2 linked regions of the Homo sapiens genome follow. The protein of the gene in region 1 interacts with the protein of each later gene in a biochemical or structural test. Each region holds a gene or a part of one and is shown on either strand. Other genes may lie near its edges.

What was found. The genes of interacting proteins can lie anywhere in the genome.
Region 2: the proteins of KIF20A (region 1) and CDC14A form a complex in vitro, tested with the Homo sapiens proteins (one study listed by BioGRID).

The regions. Positions count from the first base shown.
Region 1 is NC_000005.10:138,185,168-138,188,223, reverse strand, and holds the end of KIF20A (kinesin-like protein KIF20A), read right to left. Parts: coding exon 3,027-3,056; intron 2,713-3,026; coding exon 2,514-2,712; intron 2,264-2,513; coding exon 2,172-2,263; intron 1,931-2,171; coding exon 1,793-1,930; intron 1,129-1,792; coding exon 811-1,128; 3' UTR 501-810; downstream 1-500. UniProt on the Homo sapiens protein: Mitotic kinesin required for chromosome passenger complex (CPC)-mediated cytokinesis. Following phosphorylation by PLK1, involved in recruitment of PLK1 to the central spindle. Interacts with guanosine triphosphate (GTP)-bound forms of RAB6A and RAB6B.
Region 2 is NC_000001.11:100,355,506-100,359,005, reverse strand, and holds part of CDC14A (dual specificity protein phosphatase CDC14A), read right to left. Parts: intron 1-3,500. UniProt on the Homo sapiens protein: Dual-specificity phosphatase. Required for centrosome separation and productive cytokinesis during cell division. Dephosphorylates SIRT2 around early anaphase.

The sequences.
Region 1 (3,056 bases):
CGGACATTTGGAAATAACATTGGTGATTATACAGACAAGAATAAACTCACTTCAAGCTGGTCTGTTTTAATAAATTTTCAACGTAATTGTCTATTTTTTTCCCTCCCATCTGCAACAGAATACATTTTTTTCAGCCTTTATCTAGATGAGGTAAAGGGAATCATTCTTATGGTGCTCTTGGAGAGTTTCAGGCCTGTGCATGTGTGTACAGCAGGAGGTAATATGCTATAATGTCTGCTGTAATATATTTGCACAGTAGATGCTATGGATCATTCTGAGCTCAGGGTCCAGACTTTATTCTTATTCCCAGAATTTTGTGTTACGTTTTTACCTCCTAACATATGACACTTCATCTTATATTAAGGAAGGTTTAGAATATCTAATACGACTTGAATTCATTTGTTACTAAGCCTTCTCAGGCAAGCTGTATACTAGTTACTGGTCTCCACTGCCATGCCTTTTCAAGGTTCCCATGGTCCAGAATGATGTTTGATTCTTAATTTTTCTGTCCCTTTTATAATTTGTTTTAATGATTTTGCTACATTTGGAATTCAATAAAAAATGTGAACAATAATATCTTTAATATAACTGTTTTTGTGTGCATAGAAATCATATAAGTAAATAAAAAAAAACAACAACATGAGATTACATAGGTGGTTATAATACAAAAGTGAGAAAAAAGCTAGTGTCTGAGTATTGCATCCTGGATATAATTCCTGATATATGGTAAAGCATAAAAGAGACCTATTTCTTCAGGAGAGTAGCTGACCCACCTCAGGGCCATGACTGCTCTTCTCTTTCCCCACAGCCTTAGTACTTTTTGCCAAAAGGCCCAGATTTGAGTAAAGGGGAACGCCGTGAGCGTAGGATCCGGGCATAAGGGCTGCAGTCTGTTGAGCTTTGGCAGGTTGGTGTTCGGGGAAGTAAATTTCGAAGGAATGGTTTCTTCCCTGGTGGTTGTTGGTTTGGTTGCTGATTTTCCTGGTTGGTACCAAGGCGCTTTTTGGCAGAAACCTGGCCTTGGAGTTTCAACACAGTATGATACTGCTCAGCAATACATGCTGCCTTCTTCCGAAGGTCCAGTTTCACTAGCACCATGTTGTTCTGCAGTTCAGCCAGAGTCTGGTCCTAAGGAAGATCAATAAAGTTATAGAAAACACTTTTGTCTGGTATATTAGAGAAACGAGAGGGCTAAGGGTAATACATACCATCCATTACTAGTTACTAACAACTGTTTCTTCAAAGATTAAAACTCTTTAAGGTCGGAGCTTATAACTGAATAAGGGGACATTTTCTGAGAACAAAACATAAGCAGTGCTGAATAGGACATCTTCTAACACATAAGGTAGTATGAGCTTGAGTAAATTTAATTTCTAAGTGCCTCAGTCTCTAAATGTCAAATTAAATGTTGAGTTTAGTTTAAGATACACAATTTTAACATTTTAATCTCTTTGGAATCAGGATGCATCTTACTGATGAGAAATTGTTACTTTTTTCTTAGTAGTACATAAAATAATGGTTTCTTATAATCAGTAGCATCTTAGATGAAATATGACAGTAACTACCTCCCTAAGGTGGTTGTGACAGAAAATGCCTATAAATTACTTAGCACAGTGCCTGGTACTTAGTAAATGCTTAACAAAGAATAGTTATTTTTATTTTGCAAATATACTGCTCTCACTATAAATTCAGCCTAAAAATCTTTACCTTTTTCTTCTGGTCCTCTTTCCTTTCTCACATATACACTGGAGTGGGCTGGTAGGACAGAAGTGGGTATATAGTTTGCCCTAACCTGTTTGATTAAGATGTCATCACAAGTGGTCAAGGCTTGACGAAGTTTTCCTGCCCCAGTGCTGTGGCAACAAGCTCTCTCTGCTGATTGGAGAGACTCACCAAGTTTCTGAAGCTCTGTCCGCAACAGCCTTATATTCTGAAAAAGGGGAAGTAGGAATCATATTGTGGCCAAGAGCAACCAGGATAATGATCTGGAGGGGTCAGGTAGCCATTTGAAGAGAAGTAAAATTAGAAAGGCTAGTCAGCTGAGTGAAATAGCCACTCTCCAGAACTGTGCACAAAAAACATCTTGTCTTCACATGAACCAGTGATAGAGTGTTGGATGTGGGAAATTGCCTTAGGTAAGAGTTTGGTAAACAGAGAATGGTGGTAATTACCTTCTGGCCCTCTTCTAACTTCTTGTCCACATCAATGGTGAAGGGCTTGGCTGAGGGTGGTGGTTCTAACATTTTCTGATACTTATGCAACTCTGAGGGAAGGAAACAGGAAACTTAAAATATGTGGGGTTTTTTTAGCCTTGGACTAACCTCTTTAACTGAGGTAACAGTAGCTTGCAGCAAATATAAAAAGTGAGGCTATGTGTATCCTAGATTGAAATGTCAGGGGGATGTAGCTTGCAGTTTAGGAAATTATGTTAGAGCAGGAGTTAGAAGGCCTGGGTTTAAGTAACAGCTCTTCCCTGAACCACTGTTATGTTTCCTGCCTGTCTCTTTCCTCACCTTCAGTGGTAGAGTTTAGCTCTGCTTTGCACTGCTGTAATTTAGCTTTAACCTCCTGAAGCTGCTGGGTGGAGGCAGAAGCTGCCAACCTTTGTGACCGCCGTAGGGCCAATTCAGACCCTGATTGCTGATGGGCCACTGACTGTTGTCTGGCTTCCTGCAAGAGAGCTTCTAGCTCTTCAATCTTTTCATCCCGCTCCTAAGAGGGAAGCAGAGAGCACAATTCTTTGCAGAGCCAGAAAAATATTGCTAAGACAGATGACTGAACAAACAAAGCACTTGTGACACTGATCCCTTGAAAACCTGTTGTTAGCACTTAATACGATTTCCTGGCCAACTAAACCCTTAATCAATTCACCAAACATAGATTGAACCCAAAGCACTATGGGGAATAGAGAAAAGGGAGTTATATATTCCTGCCCTTACTGGAGTAGTTTATAAAATCTCTTTACTTCAGGCAAGCTAGTGATGGAAATCTGAGCAGCTAATTGGAGCTGGCTCAGGGCAACTCACCTGAATCTCTTCTTGGTAAAAACTTGTCAG
Region 2 (3,500 bases), on another chromosome or scaffold:
GTATGTGTGTATATGCTTAAGTGGCATTCAACCTTCCATTAAATTATCCTACTTGCTATACATTTAATTTGAAATAAAAATTTAAAAACCAAAAGGGTTTCTCCTGACCTACCTCTAACCTAAATATGCATTCCCACAAATATTTCTAGGCAAGAGTAGTTTTTCCATGCTTCTCTCATAAATATTCTATGTTCACATTTTGACTCAAAACTATGCTATAGACAAGATAAAAGAAATCATTTTTCTATAAATTACTTATCCAAAACTTCCTGGATGCATTAATATCAGGCTGCTTTAATTAAGTTTAAATGAAAATTGAATGTTTTAAATTATTTAAATCTTCCATTTAGCTAATTAGTTCTCATTAGAGGCTGCTCATTCTTAACATGCTAAAACATTTGGTGAAATTCTTCAAGTCACTTCAGAAACTGCTTAAAATTCAGTCCCTAGAGTTTCTCCCTAAAGAGCTCTTTCCTGCACTTTCAATACCTTTCTTCACAACTCAAAAAGAGAAGAAATGACAATGGACAGGCTGAAAATGAAGACCCTATACACTATCCTTCCCAGCAAACTGGCTTTCTATGCCATGAACATCCAACCCTACACCCATGACCACCACTAGGAGGGGCACACAGATGTCATAACAAGTAATATATTTCATTTCACTAACTTTTTAGCCACACAAAAGTAAGCCAAGTTATTAAAAGTAAGCGCCTGTTTGGATTACGGGGCCCAATTCCAATACCAAAGAACAAGCCTTTCCAGGGAGTGGTGTGTTATTTGTAGCTTAATCAAATGCAGATAAATCTTCTTTGAAAGGCTCCCTTTTTGTGGAGCTATTTTTGTACCACTAGTGTGTTAGCCTATACTTTGATTTTAACTCTGACCTGTGAAATCATAACCCAAGGACAAAGGATGATTTCTTATCATCCTCATTTTATTAAAGCTGCCCAGGCCTTTATAGTAATAAGTTCTGTTTTAAAAAATCAAGCAGATAATTCAAACGTTCACTTTTAATAGCCTTACCTCATGAGGCCACCTCATTAAATTTTCTCCACCAGCATCTCAGAAGGTTGACATTTCAATCATGGAATGCTGTCCTCCTTTCATAACTAAAGAAACATCTGCGCAAAACACAGCTGTGGCCAGAATATCCACAGCCTAATATTTAAAGAGTCTACTTCCTGATTCAAAAACAATCGCTTCTAAGGTGATAATTTAGCCAGAAAAGCAGCATTTCTTTCTTTTTTTTTTTTTTTTAAGAGATGGGGTCTCACTATGTTGCTCAGGCTGGCAGGCTGGCTTTTCAGTTCAACTGCAGGCCTCAAGCAATCCTGTCGCCTCAGCCTCAAGAGTAGCTGGGACTACAAGCACACCCAGCTGGAAAAGCAGCATTTAATTTAAACATTCAGCAAATAATTACACAGTACAAAGGCCTGTGTGATAATGAATATAAATATATTCTTCTCCTCAGAGACATGCACATTATGATGTGATAGTCAAAATCTTTCTCGCTGTAGGACGTCCTCCAGACAGAGCCCGGGTTACTAGACATCCTTCTAGGGGCTTTGCAGTCTCTCTCATTCTATACTTCCCCAAAGTGGAGCTGACGAGATGGAGTCAGTCCTTCTCCCTTTCTCCTTTCCCCTTCAGTGTTTGTCCACCTCTTTGTTGCGTACTTCCACCTTCCCTTGCTCCTCCCATCCTGGTTCTACTTGTGAAATACAGACCTTGAGACCTTCTCTATCTTCCCAGAAATCGCATCATTCTCACAGCTTTATTAGTCTCTTTGGGAAAATTCCCAAATTTAAGAACCTCAAATGTATGTGATATCTAACAGTGATGTAAATATCCCTTAAATTTCTTAAATTCAATCTGGCCAAAATGGAATGCCTGATCTTCCCACCAAAGCCAATTATTCCACCCTCCTTCCTTATTTCAGTTAAGAGCTCCAGTAGGCTCACCACAACCTAAGCTGTCTTAAGGACTTCTTTGATCCCTCTTTTTCCTCAGCACCCCTCCACGCCACCCTCCTGTGTTGCCAGGTCACATGGCTTCAGATCGCTTCTTTCCATCACCATTGTCACCATCCTAATCCAGGTACTTGTTTCTTTCCCCTGAATTTTTTTTTTTTTTTTTTTTTTTTTAGACAGAGTCTTGCTCTGTAGCCCAGGCTAGAGTGCAGTGGCGCAATCTCAGCTCACTGCAACCTCCACCTACCAGGTCCTGGTTCAAGCAATTCTCCTGCCTCAGCCTCCCAAGTAGCTGGGATTATAGGAACACGCCACCATGCCCAGCTAATTTTTGTATTTTTAGTAGAGACGGGGTTTCAACATGTTGGCCAGGCTGGTCTTGAACTCCTGGCCTCGTGATCCACCTGCCTCGGCCTCCCAAAGTGCTGTGATTACAGGCGTGAGCCACTATGCCTGGTCCCCCCTGAATTTTTTTAAGTGGGCTCTTATCTCCTTAACAACCCCTCTTAAATGATGCTACTGTATTAATTTTTTGAGAAGGATATATGTCCTCTGCAACTAGATGACTTGGTTTCAAACTCCAGCTCTGCTACTTTTACTTCTGTGACCTTGGGCAAGTGACCCAGCTTCTCTATGCCTTTTTGTACAATAAGGATAATAGTGCCTGTCTCACAGAATTGTTGTGAAAACACAATGAATTAATAGTTATAGAGCACCTAGAACAGCATCTGGCACACATTTAAATGCTCAATAAATGTTTCCCATTGTTTGTAATTAGCACAAATCAAGTCATACCATGGCTGCCCCAAATCCCTCAAGAGTCCCATGGTGTACCAAAGAAACTGCAGGTTTCTCACCCTGACATTCATTCTGTCCCCAGCCAACATCTCAATTTCACATTCTCCATCCCCTACATGTTCCCTGAATACACACCAGGCAAACTGGAGGACTTACTGTTCCCTGAACACACGTCCCAAGCCTCTCCCCTCCTCACACTTGCTGTTTTCCAAGATCCCTCCTCTCATGTCTCTGCCTGATAAGACCTTGTCCATCCTTCAAGCCAATCTTAACTCTTCCACGAAGCCTTTGCTGAACGCTTCCACCAGATGTGCCCCTACCTGCCTGTGAATGCCTCTCCTAGCATAGAGGTTGTATTTCTCTTTGGGCAGGTATCTTTCCTATACCTCAAACTGCAGTTCTGTTATTTTCCCTACAGGCTTGGAGCTCTTTGAAGGTAACATATGCATTCAACATTGTTTTATTCTCTGCATCACCTAGCACCATGTAATATGTTGGGGTAACAAAAAAGATGGAGTTGGAGGTGTCAGAGCCACAGCCATTACTGTGGCACAGTAGGGTAAGTTCAAACTAAGAAAAGTACACACTCTGCCCAGGCTGAAGTCCTCATCGTATTTCAAATGTCAATCCCAACTCACAATATAAATTGGATGGATTCTCCAGCAAGTCTTTCCTTATAAGATACCAGAAAAACAGTAGACTATAAGAGGAATATGATTTGTAGGCCTA